3 separate regions of the Homo sapiens genome follow, and all the other regions are reported to be linked to region 2. The links are microRNA targets in miRTarBase. Many come from high-throughput screens and were not tested one by one. Region 2 holds a microRNA gene; each other region holds the end of a gene's coding sequence. Distances are between the middles of the regions.

Region 1 (7,120 bases), not on the chromosome of region 2:
GTGTAGAGAAAAAGTATAAGTCAATCTCAAGGACCTTATGTGTTACTTCATAGAATACTATAGAATTATACACCTGGAAGATACCTCACAGGTTGTCTTGTCCTGTCTGCATAGTTTTACAAGAAACAGGCAAAATGGTTTACAGATAATAAATGAAAGAACTGGTACACCTATGTCTGACTCCAAGTCCCTTTCTCTTTCTTTTCCACCATAGTTAGGGAAAATAAGCTCATTTGTGAGAGAAGTTGGCCTTTCGTATTAGTAAGTCCTGTTGAATAGAAAGCCTGGCTCCTCAGTCCTCCCTGTGGTTATTCATAAGCCAGTATGCCAGAAGGGCAGGGTTTGTTTATTTCACTAGAAAGGTAGTTTTCAAGAGGATCCTTGCAAGGCGAGTAGGAGGAAAATATTTTCTAGAAAAATGCTTATGCAATTATTCCGAATATCTCCCAGTTGCTTGCAATTGTTTTGGAAGGCTCTGTCAATCATTTTATTGGCAAGTTAATGATCTCTTTGAAGATTCAATTAAGGAGTTAAATATACGTTTAAATAAGTGAAATAGACATCTAGCTTTAGATTTACAATTTTCTTGAGCACACAAAATATGAAATATTTTATACAGTGAACATTTCACTCTTTGGGAAAAATAATCTATTGCTTAATAACATTCATAGCAGAGCTTCCCTGGGTGTAATGCCTCTGTCATGATTCAACAGATTCTAAAGATGAAAAAATTAGGATCTTGAGTTTCGGATACCCTGCTCTTAGCCAGAGTGTATATCCAGAAGTCTTGTATTCTTTTCCAACAGCCGATAATGCCATTTGCTCTAATTTTTAAGCAAAAGAAAATCTATATAGGTAACAAGGCCTATGAAGACCTATTTCTGTAACCTTTAATCATTTTTCTGCAAGACCAGCAGGTGGTGCTCCTCACTTTGCTCATGTTAGCTTTGAAATTTTGAGTACTGAGTACACTTCACTTTTTTATCCTCTCATACTTCTATAGTTAACTTTCCAAGAACATAAGTATTTATTTAATTTGACCAGATTATATCTATAGCTTAATGAGGTAAGACCAGTGATTTGTTAGTAAGGTTTTCCCTTTAAAAATGCTACATTTCCAGTTTTGTTCTAATTACTGCTTTCATGTTTCCTTTTAGGATGGAGAAGAACTAGAAAGACTTACCAAACCCAAGAGTGATGAGTCAGATGAAGATACTTTCTAACTGGTACCCACATAGTTTGCAGCTCTCTTGAACCTTATTTTCACATTTTCAGTGTTTGTAATATTTATCTTTTCACTTTGATAAACCAGAAATGTTTCTAAATCCTAATATTCTTTGCATATATCTAGCTACTCCCTAAATGGTTCCATCCAAGGCTTAGAGTACCCAAAGGCTAAGAAATTCTAAAGAACTGATACAGGAGTAACAATATGAAGAATTCATTAATATCTCAGTACTTGATAAATCAGAAAGTTATATGTGCAGATTATTTTCCTTGGCCTTCAAGCTTCCAAAAAACTTGTAATAATCATGTTAGCTATAGCTTGTATATACACATAGAGATCAATTTGCCAAATATTCACAATCATGTAGTTCTAGTTTACATGCCAAAGTCTTCCCTTTTTAACATTATAAAAGCTAGGTTGTCTCTTGAATTTTGAGGCCCTAGAGATAGTCATTTTGCAAGTAAAGAGCAACGGGACCCTTTCTAAAAACGTTGGTTGAAGGACCTAAATACCTGGCCATACCATAGATTTGGGATGATGTAGTCTGTGCTAAATATTTTGCTGAAGAAGCAGTTTCTCAGACACAACATCTCAGAATTTTAATTTTTAGAAATTCATGGGAAATTGGATTTTTGTAATAATCTTTTGATGTTTTAAACATTGGTTCCCTAGTCACCATAGTTACCACTTGTATTTTAAGTCATTTAAACAAGCCACGGTGGGGCTTTTTTCTCCTCAGTTTGAGGAGAAAAATCTTGATGTCATTACTCCTGAATTATTACATTTTGGAGAATAAGAGGGCATTTTATTTTATTAGTTACTAATTCAAGCTGTGACTATTGTATATCTTTCCAAGAGTTGAAATGCTGGCTTCAGAATCATACCAGATTGTCAGTGAAGCTGATGCCTAGGAACTTTTAAAGGGATCCTTTCAAAAGGATCACTTAGCAAACACATGTTGACTTTTAACTGATGTATGAATATTAATACTCTAAAAATAGAAAGACCAGTAATATATAAGTCACTTTACAGTGCTACTTCACACTTAAAAGTGCATGGTATTTTTCATGGTATTTTGCATGCAGCCAGTTAACTCTCGTAGATAGAGAAGTCAGGTGATAGATGATATTAAAAATTAGCAAACAAAAGTGACTTGCTCAGGGTCATGCAGCTGGGTGATGATAGAAGAGTGGGCTTTAACTGGCAGGCCTGTATGTTTACAGACTACCATACTGTAAATATGAGCTTTATGGTGTCATTCTCAGAAACTTACACATTTCTGCTCTCCTTTCTCCTAAGTTTCATGCAGATGAATATAAGGTAATATACTATTATATAATTCATTTGTGATATCCACAATAATATGACTGGCAAGAATTGGTGGAAATTTGTAATTAAAATAATTATTAAACCTATGTCTTGTGTTGCCACTCTGTCATTTAGGGTGGGATGTAGAGTACTTTTAATCTTAAAAAATAGAGTGAGACAAAAACCTACACAACTTTTAAAACTTTCTCTTTAAGTAGATCTTTACTTCTAACAATAACAAAGGCATTTTCATCAGTTATGTGAAATACGAAGATTATATCTATTATGGCGATTTATTTTAAAGGTAAGGGAAATGAGGTACAGCAGGACCTTTCTAGGAAATGTGGCATACAAAACATTTTTATCTCATAAAACATAAAAATTACAAAAATATTCTTACAAAGGTATCACATACAGAATACATTAAATAGCAGATTTCAGTAGTGCATGGAGATTGATTTTCTTATTTACGATTACTTTTTTTCCTCACCTTCCTCTTTGGAAAGCATTTTTTGCACAAAGTTAAGTTTACTTATGTTAACTTGCCACTTAATGAGAGAGGAAGAGAAAGAGTGAGAGCACAAGATCATGTGCTGGAACTAAAAATGTTCTATTCAACCCAGCAATCCCTCTACTGGGTACCTACCCAAAGGAAAATAAATCGTTTTATCAAAAAGACACTTGCAGTGGTATGTTTATCACAGCAGTATTCACAGTAACAAAATCATGGACTCAACCTAAGTGTCCATCAGTGGTGCCTGGAATAAGAAAATGTGGTACATATACACCATGGAATACTTTGCAGCCATAAAAAATAATGAAACCATGTGCTTTAAAGCCACATGGATGCAGCTGGAAGCCATTATCCTAACTGAAATAATTCAGAAACAGAAAATCAAATACCACATGTTCTCACTTATAAGTGGGAGCTAAACAGTGGGTACATGTGGACACAGGATTCCAAAGTGAGAAGGGTGGTGTATTAGTCCATTCTCATGCTGCTACAAAGAAATACCCGAGACTGGGTAATCTATAAAGAAAAGGGGTTTAAATGACTCGCAGTTCTGCATGGCTGGGGAGGAGGCCTCAGGAAACTCACAAGCATGGCTGAAGGCGAAACAGAAGCAAGCACCTTCTTCACAAGGCAGCAGGAGAGAGAGTGCCAACAGGGGAAATGGCAGATGCTTATAAAACCATCAGATCTCATGAGAACTTACTATCATGAGAACAGCATGGGGGAAACTGCCCCCATGATTCAATTACCCCCACCTGGTTCCTTCCTCAACACCTGGGGATTATGGGGATTACAATTCAAGATGAGATTTGGGCGGGGACAGAAAGCCTAATCATATCAGATGGGAAGGACATGAGGGTTGACAAAATATGTATTGGGTACAATGTTCACTGTTTGAGTGATGGGTCCACTAGAAGCCCAAACTTCACCATTATGCAATGTACCATATATACGCAATGTAACAAACCTGTACATGTACCCCTTCAATCTGAAATAAAAGTTGTTTTTTTTTTTAAGATGCGAAGTTCTGATATGTATCCACTGGAGGTCTTATGGGCACCACTGGTTTAAGAAGGTCAGAAGTCTGGAAACCATATCCTACATGCCCCTGAAATGAGGATAGTATAACCTGGAGAGGAGCAATTGTCATGTGAAAAAGGAAGTAGACATTTTTCTGCTCTGGAGAATCAAACTACAGTAAGATTTATATGGTAGTGATTATTATTTTATTATAATGAGGACTTTGCCAAAATAGGTTACTTTTCAACAGTTAAAAGAACCTTCCTGAAGAGTAATAGAGAATAGTAGTAAATTATCACTGAAGTTTTTAGGAAGAGATTGTGTCATCAGGATGTTTTAGAAGAGATTCCTTCATGAGTGTAGAAGTTGGACTGATTTCTAAAGTCCCTTTCTATTTTTAGATTCTCTTCTGCACAGTTATGACCTACACATAATGCACTGAATCTGTTCCCTTGATAGTTTCTGCATAGGCTTTGGTTGTGCCACAAGTGTGGCCTGCAGTGAATGACCTGGTCTAACTCTGTCATTGGTCCTAGGACTGAACTGTCCAGGAATATGCCTAATCCTGAGGGAAAGCATCAATATGGCTGTTGGTTATAGAGAGAAAGATGGCTTAGACTCAAGATCTCAAATCCTTGTCCAGCTGCATCTTGCTGCCGTGGGTTTTCAAGATCCACATACAGAGGGGATAACTTGACAAATTACTCTATAACTCTAAGGCTTTTTTTGCTTCTGAAGTCCCATGTGGAAGCCTTGTCACTTGTAAGCTGGACTAGACTGGGTAGATCTGCAGAGAATCTTTTTGCTTTTCTTTATAGACCCAATAGGCTCGATTAAATAGGCCATATCCTCCTTGGCTCCTTTTTCCTTTACCTATATTCTGATTTTTCCCATGAACATCTACCTTTCCTGTGGGGAGAAGAGGCAGAGGAAGTCAAGCTCAATGAAGTGTGATATTTTTTTCTCTAAAACCTAGAGCAGAGTTTCTTAAACTTCCTTTTAACGGAAAAACAAATGTCATAAATGTCAGCATGGACTTTTTTCTACTTTACTGTTATTTAAATACGTACAAACATAATATGAAGTATAAACTGCTTATGCTTTTTATCTGAAAACCGAAACATTTACAAATTAAAATACAAAGCTTTACAACCAATAAATTTCTATTTCAAATATGAATGTAATGAGAAAGTGACATTTTGCTCAAATAGAATCATAACAGACCCCCAACAGTCCTGCAGAACTTCTGCCCTCACTTGCTGTTTTAATTCCTTCAAGTACCACCCTATGGCTGTCAAGATAACAGACTTGTTGACTTTGCAAATCATGCATTTTGTCCTGCTGTGGATTTATCAACTCATGTTCCTAACAATCCCATATGGATGCTACTAACTCCCATTGGCCTTGGTGCCCTGGAAAGATTTTTAAAATATCAGCTTTATGTGTTCCCTGAAGTTCTGAAAGAACTCACTAGTAAAATTGCCTAGGCTTGGCACTTTTTTGAGATACTTTATTTTTCCCTCTCACAACATTCTCTCTCTCTCTTCCTTTTGCTCTTCTTGGTTCACTCTTGATCATTTGTTTTGCTAAAAAAAATCAGCCATTCATACAGATTTTTGAATTTATTTGCATAGGAGTTTATGATTTATTCTCATAATCCTTTGAATTTCCCATTGGTGTAGTTCTGTTTTATTTCTCATTCTTAATTTTTTGTCTGAAAGTTTTTTCTATTATTTTGTAAAAATATAGGTCCTAACTAGCTATTTCTAATTATTTTTTTCCATTTTTATTGTGGTAAAATGCACAGCATAAAATTTCGTGTCTTAACCATGGTAAGTGTACAGTTCAGTAGTTATTAAGCACATTTTTATATTTATATTATGCAACCATCACCACTGTCTACCTCCAGAACCCTTTTCATGTTGCAAAACTGAAACTCTATACCCATTAAACAGTAACTCCCCATTCCTCCCTGCCCTCAGTCTATGGCAGCCAACATCCCACTTCCTGTCTTTATGTTTTTGACTATTCTAAATACCTCATTTATAAGTGGAATCATACAGTATTTGTCCTTTTGTGACTGACTTCTTTTACATAGCATGATGTCCTCAAGGTTCATCAGTGTTGTAGTGTGTCAGAATCTCCTTGCTTTTTAAGACAGAATAATATGTCATTTTATGTATATGCTACATTTCTTTATCCATTCATCCATCAATGGACACCTGGGTTGCTTACAGCAATTTAGCTCTTGTGAATAATGATGCTATGAACATAAGTGTACAAATAATCTCTTAGAGATCTTGCTTTCAATTCTTTTGAGTATATATACATGAAAAGTGGGGAAAGGACTTGAATAGGCAGTTCTCCAAAGAAGATATACAAATGACCAACGAGCACATGAAAAGATGATCAACATCACTAATTATTAGGGAAAGACAGATCAAATCTACCATGAGATATCACATCACACCCATTAAAATGGCCACTAAAACATACACACACACAACAGAAAACAACAAGTGTTAGTATGTGGTGAACTTGGAACCCTTGTATACTGTTGGTGGGAATGTTGGTGGGTATAGCTGATGTGTGTATATATATATATATACACACACATACACACACACACACACACACACACACACACACCTGGATGTGGAATTACTGTATTATATGGTAATTATTTATAAATTAAAGGGTACATTTTTAATTTTTTGAGGATCTGACATACTGTTTTCCTTAGAAGCTCTATCATTTTACATTCCCTCCAACAGTATACAAGGGTTCCAAGTTCCTCATATACTCACCAACACTTGTTGTTTTCTGTTTTTGTTTTTGTTTATTTAATGGCCATGGTAATGGGTGTGATGATGTAGACTTGATTTCCCTTGCGCTAATAATTAGTGATGTTGAGCATCTTTTTATGTGCTTGTTGGTCATTTGTATATCTTCTTTGGAGAAATGCCTATTTAAGTCCTTTGTCCACTTTTGAATCTGGTTGTTTGTTTTGTTGCCATTGTTGAGTTTTAGGAGTTCTCTATATATCTTGA
Region 2 (7,000 bases):
GATTCCCTATTTAATAAATGGTGCTGGGAAACTGGCTAGCCATATGTAGAAAGCTGAAACTGGATGCCTTCTTTACACCTTATACAAAAATTAATTCAAGATGCATCAAAGACTTAAATGTTAGACCTAAAACCATAAAAACCCTAGAAGAAAACCTAGGCAATACCATTCAGGACATAGGCATGGGCAAGGACGTCATGTCTAAAACACCAAAAGCAATGGCAACAAAAGCCAAAATTGACAAATGGGATCTAATTAAGCTAAAGAGCTTCTGCACAGCAAAACAAACTACCATCAGAGTGAACAGGCAACATACAGAATAGGACAAAATTTTTGCAATCTACTCATCTGACAAAGGGCTAATATCCAGACTCTACAATGAACTCAAACAAATTTACAAGAAAAAAACAAACAACCCCATCAAAAAGTGGGCGAAGGATATGAACAAATGCTTCTCAAAAGAAGACATTTATGCAGCCAAAAGACACATGAAAAAATGCTCATCATCACTGGCCATCAGAGAAATGCAAATCAAAACCACAATGAGATACCATCTCACACCACTTAGAATGCCGAACATTAAAAAGTCAGGAAACAACAGGTGCTGGAGAGGATGTGGAGAAATAGGAACACTTTTACACCGTTGGTGGGACTGTAAACTAGTTCAACCATTGTGGAAGTCAGTGTAGCAATTCCTCAGGGATCTAGAACTAGAAATACCATTCGACCCAGCCATCCCATTACTGGGTATATACCCAAAGGATTATAAATCATGCTGCTATAAAGACACATGCACACGTATGTTTATTGCAGCACTATTCACAATAGCAAAGACTTGGAACCAAGCCAAATGTCCAACAGTGATAGACTGGATTAAGAAAATGTGGGACATATACACCATGGAATACTATGCAGCCATAAAAAATGATGAGTTCATGTCCTTTGTAGGGACATGGATGAAGCTGGAAACCATCTTTCTCAGCAAACTATCGCAAGGACGAAAAAACCAAACACTGCATGTTCTCACTCATAGGTGGGAATTGAACAATGAGAACACATGGACACAGGGAAGGGGAACATCACACACCGGGGCCTGTTGTGGGGTGGGAGGAGGGGAGACGGATAGCATTAGGAGACATACCTAATGTTAAATGATGAGTTAATGGGTGCAGCATACCAACATTGCACATGTATACATGTGTAACAAACCTGCACGTTGTGCACATGTACCCTAAAAGTATAATTTAAAAAATAAAATAAAATAAAGTTGTAATTCCCTGGCTCATATGGTTTCTGTTGAAAGGCCAGTTGTTAGTGTTATTGCTGCTGTTTTGAAAATATAGGTCATTTTCTTTATAGCTGGTTTTTATATTCTCTCATTGTCTTAGCTTTTTTTTTTTTTTTTTTTTTTTTTTGCTTTTTTGGGGGTATGAGGTCTTGTTATGTTGCCCAGGTGGTCTGGAACCCGTGGGCTCAAGTAATCCTCCCGCTTCAGTCTCCTGAGTAGCTGGGATTTCAGAGATGCACTGCAGTGGCCAGCTGTCTTTGTTTTTAACCACTTTTACCATGACAGTTCCAGGCATGCATATCCTGCATGAGTTAACAGTTTCTTACATGTTGAATTGAGATTTAAGTTTTACATCTATTTGGGAAATTTTTCTTCTTCTCAATACTGTTTCTGTCCATGTTTCAACTCACTCTTCTTCTCGGACTATAAATTCATGTAAGTTAGAATTTTTCACTTCAGTCCATACAGCTCTTATGTTCTTCTCATTCCTTACACTTTCTATGCTTCCATTTGAACCATTTTTTTTTTTTTTTTTTTTTTTTTTTTTGAGACAGAGTCTTGCTCTGTCACCCAGGCTGGAGTGCAGTGGTGCGATCTTGGTTAACTGCAGCCTCTGCCTCCTGGGTTCAAGCAATTCTCCTTCCTCAGCCTCCCGAGTAGCTGGGATTACAAGCGTCCACCACCACGCCCAGCTAATTTTTGTACTTTTAGTAGAGATGGGGTTTCACCATGTTGGCCAGGCTGATCTCAAACTCCTGACCTCAGGTGATCCGCCTGCCTCGGCCTCCCAAAGTGCTGGGATTACAGGCATTAGCTGCCGCGCCAAGCCGAATGATTTCTTTTGATACATCTTCCAGTTCACTACTGTTGCAATCTGCAGTGTCTCTTTTTTTTTTTTTTTTTGAGATGGAATTTCACTCTTGTCACCCAAGCTTGAGTGCAATGAAGCCATCTCGGCTCACTGCAACCTCCACCTCCCGGGTTCAAGCAATTCTCTTGCCTCAGCCTCCTGAACGGCTGGGATAACAGGCACCCACTACCACACCGGGCTAATTTTTGTATTTTTAGTAGAGACGGGGTTTCACCATGTTGGCCAGGCTGATCTCGAACTGCTGACCTCAGGTGACCCTCCTGCCTTGGCCTCCCAAAGTGCTGGGATTACAAGTGTGATTACAGGATTACAGGCTAGGATTACACCATGCCCAGACAGTGTCTCTTATTAAACACACCTAACAGTATCCTTAATTTGATATATTAGAAATTCTCAACCCATCCCATATAGCTAGTAGTATCCTGACACCAAAACCAGACAAAGGCATTACAACTACAGACCAAACTCTGTATTAGTTTTCTACTGCTGCTATAACACATTGCCACAAACTCAGTGGCTCAGAACAGCACAATTTATTATTTTAAAATTCCAGAGGTCAGAAATCCAAAACAGGTCTTATGGGACTAAAATCAAAGGATGCATTGCTTCTGGAGGCTCTTAGGAAATAACAGTTCCTCACCTTTTCCAGCTTCCAGAGGCTACTTACGTTCCATGGCTCTTGGATGCTTCCATCATCACATCATATCCTCTATTCCTCGCTTATGCTTAGACGGCTGAGGAGATCCATGAGTTACATGCCTAATCTCTTCAAAGAGCCCTCTATGTGACTGAATACTCTGACTTTTGATGTTTCTAAGGCACTAGCAAAAGGTTGTCCAGCCTCACTCTTGGCTTATACTTTGGAGCATGCTTTTCTGATAGCAAATATCTAAATTTTAGCACCTTCTGTGATCTGGATAGGTAATTTCACAAATTGACAAGCACTGATTGCTTGTTTTTCAACAGTTCTTCTCTCAATTTATATCTTTCCTCGCACATTTCACTATAAGCAGCAAGAAAAAGACAGGTTGTACTTTCACCACTTTGTGTGGAAATCTCAGCTAAACATCCAAGTTCATTACATGTTCATTACATGTAAGTTCATTACATCCAAGTTCATTACAGCAGAAGTGCTGCTTTCTATATTTAGGACACAAATGAGTTAATAGTTCTGCTTCTATATGACAAAGATCCCTTTTCCTTCAGGTTCCGGTAACATGTTCCTCATTTCCTTCTAAACCACCTTGTCAGCACTTTAAACACCTGTATGTCTACCAAGTCTGCTTATGACAATTCAGATATTCTCTAAGACACTGTAGGTTTTCTCCCCTATGATCCTTACTTCCTTCTGGGCCCTCACTGGCAGAAGCTTTATCATCCACATTTTATCTAACAATCTATTCAAGGTAATCTAGATTTTTTTTTTAAATCATGCTACTCAAAATTATTCCATACTCTGCCAAGTACCCAATTCTAAAGTCACTTTCACATTCTTAGGTATGTATTACCAGGACCCCATTTCCAGTTACTAATCAATATAGTGAACCACACTGAATACTAAATTAGAAAAAATCATTTATGTTGAGCAATAATAATGCTGAAAATGTTGGGGTCTTTTCTGCTTCAAACTTTTGAGTAATTATGTCATTGTCTAGTAAGAAAATTTTGCTCATTCTGTGTCAATCACCTTATAACATAGTTATATCATCTTATATTTTTGAATACTAGGGAAGCAATAACATGAATAAGTATTATTGTGTGTTGCATTTTGTCCTCCCAAGATATGTTCAAGTCCTAACCCCTAGCACCTATGAAGATGACCTTATTTGGAAATGGGGCCTTTGCAGATGTAATCAAGTTAAGATGAGGAGATAATGGTTTGCAGGACCCTACATTAAATGACTGGTGTCCTTATAAGGAGAAAGAGATACAAGGACACACAGGAAAGATGGCCATATGACGACGTAGGCAGAAATTAAAGTGATTCAGCTACAAACCAATGAACAGCAAGAACTACTGGCAACCAATAGAAGCCAGGAAGAAGCAAGGAAGGAGTCTTCCCTACAGCCTGAATTCAGAGGGAGCATGGCCCTGCTGATATCTTGATTTCAGACTTACAGCCTCCTCAACTATTGAGAATAAATTTCAGTTGTTTTAAGCCAGCCCGTTTGTGGTATTTTGGTACAGCAGCTCAGGAAACTATAATAGAGTCTAGAGCTACTATACCAAAATAACCACACACACACACACACACACACACACACACACACACGACATGAAATCAAAGAGAATAATTCCCCTACTTCATTCAACAAACACAAAGTTTTGTTTTTACAACTCTCCATGCACCATACTTCCTACTGATTGATACAAGAGCATGGAAAGCACAGACATTGACAGCTTCGTAAATGAACACGGGAATAGGTCATGTTTTTAAACCACCAAAAATGGAAATGGCACCTGAAACAGGAATAAAAGGTAAACAAAAAGACATATATTGGTGGCAGTATACACTGCTATTTTACTTCTCCTATTTCCAATAATATCTCTAATAAATATCACACTTAAAGCAGCATAGAAAAGAGAATGCTAGTGTTACAACCATGAAATCAAGATAAATGCAACAGTGTAGTAAGTCTGGCAAGTGTGCTTGATCTTCAACATTTCTTCCATACCTACTGAAGGTCATGAAGCTCTGTACAGACTGACCATTGAAAGAGTTATATAATGTTCAAAAAATATAAAGCAAAGGGTATTTCTACAAAGTTAATCCAAGTACATTAAAAAACAAACATTAAAAAGAATGAAGGGCTTAGCTATGGAATGATATACTCGATTAGGAAATCTTATCTTACCTGTTGAATTACTTCTGGATATAGCATGGGTAGTCTTTCAGCAATAAGAGCCAGTCCACCCATTCCTGCAAAAACTTGTAATGGTGACTGAATTGGACAGGTTTCAAGCAAAGATTCATCCAGTATCCCATCCATGCATTCATCACCTGGAGTGAGAGCCTCATCTTCTGGACAGCTAGCAAGTAAGTCTCCATGATCTAGACAATAAATTACAAATAACTGAATAGGTAAGAAAGGGTATATTTTTATAATATTCTTTCATTTACAAAAGCAGGTATTACTGCTTTCTTGCTACTCAAAAAAGAGCACAAAACATCATTTATTTAGATATAGCTGTATTATGGCTAGACGGTACAATGACCTTTAAATGACTTCTGATACTGCCTTCTTTAGTCTTGTTATTGGAAGAATGGTTCATGGACTAGTAGTATTGGCATCACCTGCAAGCTAGTTTGAAATGAAGAATCTCCATTTTAACAGTATGATGCTGGTCATTTGTAAGCATACTGAAGTTTGAGAAGCACTGTCCTTTAGGGCATACTTTAACGTATATCCTATGTTAAAATAAATAAGTTCTCAAAGTTCTCATAGCAAATAATATGCTCTAAAGTATCCTATTAAGAAAAATTAATGACAAAGACTTCCCTTACTTAAAACAAAAAATTATACCATATTAGTTTAACTCTGAATTACTCACCAAAGAAAACCAAAAGGTCACGTAACCAGACCCTTTAAACATTAAAACAAAAGAGAGAAATAATCGTGCTGAAAAACTGGGCAAAGACAATGTACCAAAATTTGCTGAAGAATACAAAAGACCAATAACTAAAGACTGAATTTTAGTCATGAGAAAGATGGAAAGTTTAAGTAAGTTCATATCATACTCACACTATGAAAACTACTTATATAGCATTTATAGGAGTAAAAATTGGAAACAACCACAATGTTTCGATGATTGGGGAACAAATAAATTTTCTTACATTTTTATGAAAAAATAGCCAATTCAAAAATGGATATTCAAAAATATTTAATGGAATATAAGGGCCGGGTGCGGTGGCTCATGCCTATATCCCAGCACTTTGTGAGGCCGAAGCGGGCAGATAAGTTGAGGTCAGGAGTTACAGAGTAGCTTGGCCAACATGGTGAAACCTTCTCTCTACAAAAAATACAAAAATTAGCCAGGCATGGTGGTGGGTGCCAGTAATCCCAGCTTCTCGGGAGGCTGAGGCAGGAAAATCACTTGAACTCGGGAGGCGGAGGTTGCAGTGAACTAAGATCGTGCCTCTGCACTCCGACCTGGGAGACAGAAAAAGACTCTGTCTCAAAAAAAATTAATGGAATATATAAGTAAAAAACAAAAATATGTGATCCCAATTATATGAGAAAACATGTTTATATGCAAGAAATGCCACTCAATATAAATTATAACAAAGTTGTAAGTTGAGTTTCTCACTTTTATTATAAAATGACAATTCACATAGCTCTCACAGAAATATCAGAAATTAAAGTACATGCGCTCATAAAACAAATGATGTTATAAGAAATAATGCAACTTAGTTTCCAAATGAAATAATGGCCATTTTTTATATTTACAAAAATTCAGTCATAAAAAAATTATATCTTATGTTGATATAATAAAAACACAAGTCAATTAAGTCATTAGCTATAGAAATCTCTGCCTCTTTGTATGACAGTCTGTAATTTTTAAAGTAGTATTATGCACATACCTTTTTCAGGGTGTAGTCTTTTATAAGAATCTGTTTTTGATAGACTGGGGTCTGTTATAACTCTTGATCCCAATTTAACAGTCAGATCTATTGAGCGGTAACCCTGAGGAAGTTTTCGGTCATATAGGAGAGTTAAAAGCTGGGCAAGTGTCATTTCAGCTGGCAATGGCTGGCCTAAAATGATATAACTAAGTTAAATCTGGAAACCGAGAAAGAAACATTTACTTGGTTTAATTATTATCTGCTTTTACTAAATTAC
Region 3 (7,120 bases), 150 Mb from region 2:
ATGTGCTTTGGGTAGAGGGTTTTCAGTAGTATATTTTTTCCCTCCTGCTCTCGTCTTTTTTTGTGTTGTACCAAATAAAGAATCAAGAAATGAAGTAACTAAAATGTCTAATTCTGGAGGGTGTGCTCACAGTTCACCACATTTCATTTAGATCATTAACTTTTTAAAAGCTTCAGATAGGCCAAGCTGTATCAATGCTGTCCCATCAGATCTATCACATTCATTATTAATACAATATTGCCCCCATCAGCATTGGTCTTGCACTGTGTCTCTTTTCACTTGGAAAGTATCATTTGCAAGTTACCTGAAATGTTTTTCATTTATTGACCTCATGCTGGTATGTGATTACCTTTTCCACTTCACATTGTTATGAGCTATTTGTGTCACATTTTACTACATCGTAAGTTTAAATATTTTTAAGTAACTTTCTGCCAGGATAAAATATGTGCAAGGGTAGAAAATTTTTTCCTTGCTGATTATTTAAACAGATTTGCAAGCCATTGACACTAGCTTATTTATGAGAACACTAAGTATACTCTGGAGTATTTCTGGCTTTCTGTTTAGCTTATAGTTATGATTTTATTTTATGTTTCCACATATATTTCCTGTGGTTTTTTTCTTATTTATATACACTTATCTACTAAGTTGTTAGGTTTTATGTGTACTTTACTGATACATTTGGCTACAAAGTTGTTAGGTTTTCATGTGTACTTTACTGATACATTTGACTACTAAGTTATTAGGTTTTTATGTGTACTTTACTGATACATTTGGCTACTAAGTTGTTAGGTTTTAATGTGTTCTTTACTGGATTACTTTAGTTTAATGAAAGATACTGTTTCAGAATTCCAAACATCATTAAAGCATTTCAATCATGGGTTAGTAGGTAAGGGAGGTACAGGTTGATTGATTGATTGATTGAGTTTCCATTTGTTGCTGGTAATGAATTTTATTTCAATAATCAAATAAATTGAATCAAATAAATCAATAAAACTGAATATTTACTTTATACTTTCAAGTAGTATAAGAATGTGCAATTGATATAATAACCTTTCTCAAATGAATAATGAAGATTTTTGTTTGTTTTTTTTTTTGTAGGATGGAGTGGTTCTTGTTCATTGTAATGCAGGCGTTTCCAGGGCTGCTGCAATTGTAATAGGTTTCCTGATGAATTCTGAACAAACCTCATTTACCAGTGCTTTTTCTTTGGTGAAAAATGCAAGACCTTCCATATGTCCAAATTCTGGCTTCATGGAGCAGCTTCGTACATATCAAGAGGGCAAAGAAAGCAATAAGTGTGACAGAATACAGGAGAACAGTTCATGAGTTGCATTGTAGCAGACAATGGACAACTGTAGTTTCTGAATTGACTTCTATAGCCATCTTTTCCCTTTTTTGGAGAGTAGACTAGCAAAACTCCCTTTTTTCTCTTGCCTTTTTTATGCATAAATGGAGGTCAATTTGATTGTCCTGACCTACTGTATAAGTAAATTTCAAATGTCATTACTTTCTCTTTGTTATTATAATGTGTGATTAAATGCTTTTTTAAATTGCTAAGGGAAAATAACAAAGTGTTAGTAATCATTGCTTTCTGTAGAAGAAAAAGGTTTAAATTTAAAATGTGTATTTAGAGCATGGAGAGAATCATTTAATGAAGCCTATTTTTCTGTTCCAGCAACTGTTTTTATGAAAGAAAAACTTGAAATGCTACTTAACTTACTATTTCAAAGGGAAGTATATTTCTTTTTAAAGAATCTTTTTAAGATTAAAAATGAATACCTTAAATCTCCCAAAAGAGATAACCAGTATCTGAAGGTTTATACAATATTTACACAGTGGCTACAATATTCACAAAATTCTTATGTTCTCTTATGAAAAATATACACTTTTCATTTTGTCTTCTTCTTTTTTTTTCTTTTTTTAGATGGAGTTTGGCTCTTGTCACCCAGGCTGGAGTGCAATGGCGCAATCTCAGCTCACTGCAACCTCTGCCTCCCGGGTTCAAGCGATTCTCCTGCCCCAGCCTCCCATATAGCTGGGATTATAGGTGCCTGCCACCATGCCCAGCTAATTTTTGTGTTTTTAGTAGAGATGGAGTCTCACCACATAGGCCAGGCAGTCTCGAACTCCTGACCTCAGGTGATCCACCCACCTTGGCCTCTCTAAATACTGGGATTACAGGCGTGAGCCACTGCATCCGACCTCATTTTGTTTTTTTCAATTCTGTTATCGGCATTTCTTTCTTTTTTTTTTTAATGTATAGGTGTTCTGTCATACGTTATTGTGAGCTTTGGTTCTTTGAACAGGTGATCTATTCTCTTACATTTTGTGCTTTTTATCTTGGGTGCCTAGCATTCTGTTTTTTTGATCCTATGTCATAATTTTTTGAGAAAATGTTTGATACTGCAAGATCATTGTTTAGTGGTCTGTTTTCTACTTCAGTATTCTACCAGAGAACATATTTTTTAGGGGAGAAGGGTTATGGTTTTGTAAGAAACTTTAAATATACTTTTAGGAGACCCACAATCATTTACAGTTTTATCTTTGGCCTTTGAATAGGTTCTTTTTTCTTTAATGTCTCCGTATTTGAAGAACTGAGCTCTGTACATTATAAATTTGCTTAAAGATTTTGATTTTTTCTTCAGAATATGGTATACTTAAAATTAATTAATTAAGACAGTTTCTTTTTTCTTTTCTTTTTTTTTTTTTTCGAGACAGGGTCTTGCTCTGTCACCTAGGCTAGAGTGGAGTGGCATGAACACAACGCACTGCAGCCTCTACCTCCTGGGCTCAAGCAGTCCTCCCACCTCAGTCTCCTGAGTAGCTGAGACTACAGCTGTGCGCCACCACATCTGGCTAATTTTATTTTTATTTTTGTAGAGACAGGAGTCTTGCCATGTTGCCCAGGCTGATCTCAAACTCCTAGGCTTAAGTGATCCTCCCGCCTTAGCCTCCCAAGTGCTAGGATTACAGGCATCAGCCACCACGCCTGGCCTGATAGTTTCCACATAGTTTTTCATGACTTAGAAGATATCATTGCCATGTAGGTTTTATTTTTAAAAGTCTTGAGCTCTTCTTAAATATACATTATAAAGAGCAAGCATAGATGGAAAGTGCATATTGAACACATCTGTGCATTTGAGAAGGCAGGCTTTCATATGCTGTCATGAGCAAAAAGTAGAAGTGATAAATGCAAGTTATGTTTTGAGATTGCTTACACCGTGACAAGATGCCATCACTTGTGATGTTATGAACTGTTATAAACTCTTTGCTTCTGCTAAGAAGCAGTCTAAATATAATCAACGTACAGTGAGCTCTTTGAAGCCAACCAAGGCAGGCAGAACCCTCTTAAATATGAGACTGATGTATAGGTTCTCTCTATGGTCAGTATCACTGGATAAGCCTTCTCCTTTCATAAGAAAGGATGTATTTAAATACATTTTATTTTGCTAAATCCTGTTTAGTTTTCAGCCATTAAATGTCACATGAAGCCTTGATAGAATTTGTTCATAATGGCTCATGTATTATTATTATTTTTGAGATGGAGTTTTGCTCTTAATGATATTATTATTATTTGAGACAGAGTTTTGCTCTTATTGCCCAGGCTGGAGTGCAGTGGCGTGATCTTGGCTCACTGCAACCTCTGCCTCCCAGCTTCAAGCGATTCTCCTGTATCAGCCTCCCAAGTAGCTGGGATTATAGGCATGTGCCACCATGCCCAGCAAATTTTGTATTTTTTTTTGGTAGAGACAGGGTTCAACCATGTTGGTCAGGCTGGTCTCGAACTCCTGACCGCAAGTGATCCACACGCCTTGGTCTCCCAAAGTGCTGGGATTACGGTGTTAGCCACTACACCTGGCCTGGATTGTGTATTATTTATGTCTGTAGTTTATATGCTTAGTTGTTGCCTATAGTGATCTGGGTAAGATTCAAACATTTATCTTTTGTATCTTCTACAGAAGTGCTTTGAGCATCAAATTTGTTTTAACGTTAAATTGTAGTTTGCTGTATTAAAATAGATCAATGAATATAATTCAGTCTTTTAGGGGCACCAAGTAAAGCATAAGGTCATATATACTATACAATATGTTTATTGCACTTCCCATGGGGATAAATCACTCTGTCATTCCTAGTTATTTTAAAAAAAGAACTTTATGATTACGGTCCTCTTTCTCACATACTGCAAACTTAAAAGATACATACACCAAATATAGGTCTGTTTTAAAGGAGAGGAAAAATAGTTCAAGGAGTTTTTGCCTCTTTGTTTTTCAATAGATTATTCTGCCATTTTTTAAAGGAAAGGGAAAATGAAAACAGCATGTCTTTTTAAACATTGAAAAGAAATATGGAGGCTTTAAACCGCAAACTGAAAAAGCTGAGTAGAACAAAGGCAGTGGAGCATACAATACAATTCTATTTATTTGAGGTTAATTGAAGTTAATAATTTTTAAATTTTTTTCTAATTTTATGCCTTAAAATAGGTTTCTGATTACATAAAATTTGAATAGAACACTCAAGAAGTATGTAGATTTTTGAAAAACCCAAACAATATTCTTCTTAGATTTTTGGAGGCAAAATTTAGACCAGTATACTAATTCAAAAGACAAATATTTCAGAGGAAGTGGAGTACAGTATTTAACATTTTGTTTGCAATTTTACTTTTTCTTCCCTTCTTCCCTATTGAACCTTGATTAAAATGTATGAATACAATACTTGGATTTTTTTTTTTCAGCTTAGACTCTGATAATTTCAGTGGTAGTGGGGAAACCTGAATTTGTCAGCATGATTATTTGTAACTCAGATTGTTCAAATGTATATAGAAGGTCCCCTTCAAGTGTTGTTTCTCCAAGTAGTCATAAATGTAGCAAGTATAAATCAGAATATCATCTTATAATCTTACAGAGTTAACCTAATGAGTCAATACCTTTATAAGCAAAACCATGATAAATTTAAAAACAACAGAAATGTGGCATGATTACTTATTTATTTGTTCCAGGTGACTCTAAATAGTTGATTTTTCTGCCTGAAGGATCCTGAACATATTTAGTTACCCTGTAGTTATTTAGGAATTTAAACCAGAAGACTTTGAAGTTGTATATTCTTGCAATGCATAAAATGACATTATAATCAACAAACTTATGGTTTGTTTCAATTGATGCACACAAAAAATAACTTATAGTTAGACTTTTCTATTTCAAGTAAAGCTTTGAGTTACTTGTTTTTATACATATTCATCATGTACCCTTTATTGTTTCTAGGTGTTGATATACTTTAATAAAAATGATATGTTTAATATTTTCCCATTAATATATTTCTTTGAAGCTATTTGTTTTAAAAGATGTAACACTTATTTGCTGTCAAATTCTGAATTAAAAAATCTGTTGGTGGCCAGGCGCAGTGGCTCATGCCTGTAATCCCAACATTTTGGGAGGCCAAGGAGATGGATCACTTGAGGCCAGGAGTTCAAGACCAGCCTGGCCAACATGGCAAAACCCCATCACTAAAAATACAAAAATTACCCGGGCATGGTGGTGGGTGCCTGTAATCCCAGCTTCTTAGGAGGCTGAGGTAGGAGAATTGCTTGACCCTGGGAGGTGGAGGTGGCAGTGAGCCGAGATAGCACCACTGCACTTCTAGTTGACAGAGTGAGACTCTGACTCAAAAAAAAAAAAAAAATGTTGGGAAGACACACAATTTTATATTTTAAAATGTAAGTTAGTTTAGATCTATGAAGATTTGTTGTTCCCGTCTCTTCAAGAAATGAAAAGCCGGCTGGGTGCGGTGGCCTGTAATCTCAGCATTTTGGGAGGCCGAGGCAAGAGGATCACGAGGTCAGGACTTCAAGAGCAGCCTGGCCAATACGGTGAAACCCTGTCTCTACTAAAAATACAAAAAAAATTAGCTGGGCGTGGTGGCACACGCCTGTAGTCCCAGCTGCTTGGGAGGCTGAGGCAGGAGAATCGCTTGAACCTGGGAGGCAGAGGTTGCAGTGAACTGAGATTGCGCCACTGCACTCCAGCCTGGGTGACAGAGCGAGACTCTGTCTCAAAACACAAAAGAGAAAAGCTAAAGTAAGAGCATATAATTGGCATCACTGTGGACAGATTGTCAATGAAAATTCAATAGAATACCTTATTTAAGGTAAGAGAAGATGCTGAGTTACTGTCAGATTAAATTACCCTACATTCTAACTATGACTGCATTGAGATTATTTGTACATAGTGTGGCACCCACCTCCCACGCTCATGCAAACAGGCTGTTATATCTTTGTAATAGTTATTTTAAAATGTACAATAAATTATTGTTGACTGTAGTCACCCTGTTGTGCTATCAAATACTAGATCTTATTCTATCTAGCTATATTTTAATACCCATTAGCCATCACACTTCTTCCCCTCATGCCCCCACTGTTCTTTCCAGCTTCTGGTAACCATCATTCTACTGTCTATCTCCATGTGTTGAACTGTTTTAATTTTTGGCTCCCACAAAGGAGTGAGAACATTTGAAGTTTGTCTATCTGTGCCAGTCTTATTTGACTTAACATAATGTCCTCCAGTTCTATCCATGTTTTTCCAAAGGACGGGATCTTATTCTTTTTTATGGTTGAATAGTACTCCATTATATATATGTACTACATGTTATTTATCCATTCATCTGTTGATGGACACTTAGGTTGCTTCTAAATCTTGGCTATTGTGAATAGTGCCGCAATAAACATGGGAGTGCAGATATCTCTTTGATATATGAATTTCCTTTCTTTTGGGTATTTATCAATGTTCATCAGGGATGTAGGCCAATAGTTTTCTTTTTTAATGTGTCCTTTTGATTATTATTATACTTTTAGTTCTGGGATACATGTGCAGAACTTGGGGGTTTGTTACATAGGTACACATGTGCCATGGTGGTTTGCTGCACCCTTCAACCTGTCATCTAGGTTTTAAGCCCCGCATGCGTTAGGTATTTCTCCTAATGCTATCCCTCCCCTTACCCCCCACCCCTCGACAGGCTCCAGTGTGTGATAATCCCCTCCCTGTGTCCATGTGTTCAGCTCCTACTTATGAGTGAGAACATTTGGTGTTTGGTTTTCTGTCTCTGTGTTAGTTTGCTGAGAATGATGGTT

Evidence for each region. Region 2 holds the annotated microRNA hsa-miR-558 (UGAGCUGCUGUACCAAAAU, at 4,335-4,353, opposite strand). A microRNA usually pairs through its seed, bases 2 to 8, with sites in the 3' UTR of a target mRNA and lowers its output. Matches are read on the target gene's strand: a 7mer-m8 pairs with bases 2 to 8, a 7mer-A1 pairs with bases 2 to 7 and ends in A, and an 8mer does both.
Region 1: miRTarBase lists SLC35A5 as a target of hsa-miR-558. Seed matches in the 3' UTR shown: 7mer-m8 at 1,242-1,248.
Region 3: the mRNA of DUSP19 is a reported target of hsa-miR-558. Seed matches in the 3' UTR shown: 7mer-A1 at 1,973-1,979.

What each region holds. Positions count from the first base shown.
Region 1 is chr3:112,581,514-112,588,633 of GRCh38, forward strand. SLC35A5 (solute carrier family 35 member A5) reads left to right here. Exons shown (of 7, transcript NM_017945.5): 7 at 1,158-4,066. The coding sequence ends at 1,223. Among named protein-coding and RNA genes, the nearest start is that of SLC35A5, 23 kb to the left of the region's middle.
Region 2 is chr2:32,529,566-32,536,565 of GRCh38, reverse strand. MIR558 (microRNA 558) reads right to left here and starts at 4,413; the gene lies at 4,320-4,413. BIRC6 (baculoviral IAP repeat containing 6) reads right to left here. Exons shown (of 74, transcript NM_016252.4): 60 at 6,742-6,915; 61 at 5,015-5,211.
Region 3 is chr2:183,094,333-183,101,452 of GRCh38, forward strand. DUSP19 (dual specificity phosphatase 19) reads left to right here. Exons shown (of 4, transcript NM_080876.4): 4 at 1,099-5,676. The coding sequence ends at 1,326. Among named protein-coding and RNA genes, the nearest start is that of DUSP19, 19 kb to the left of the region's middle.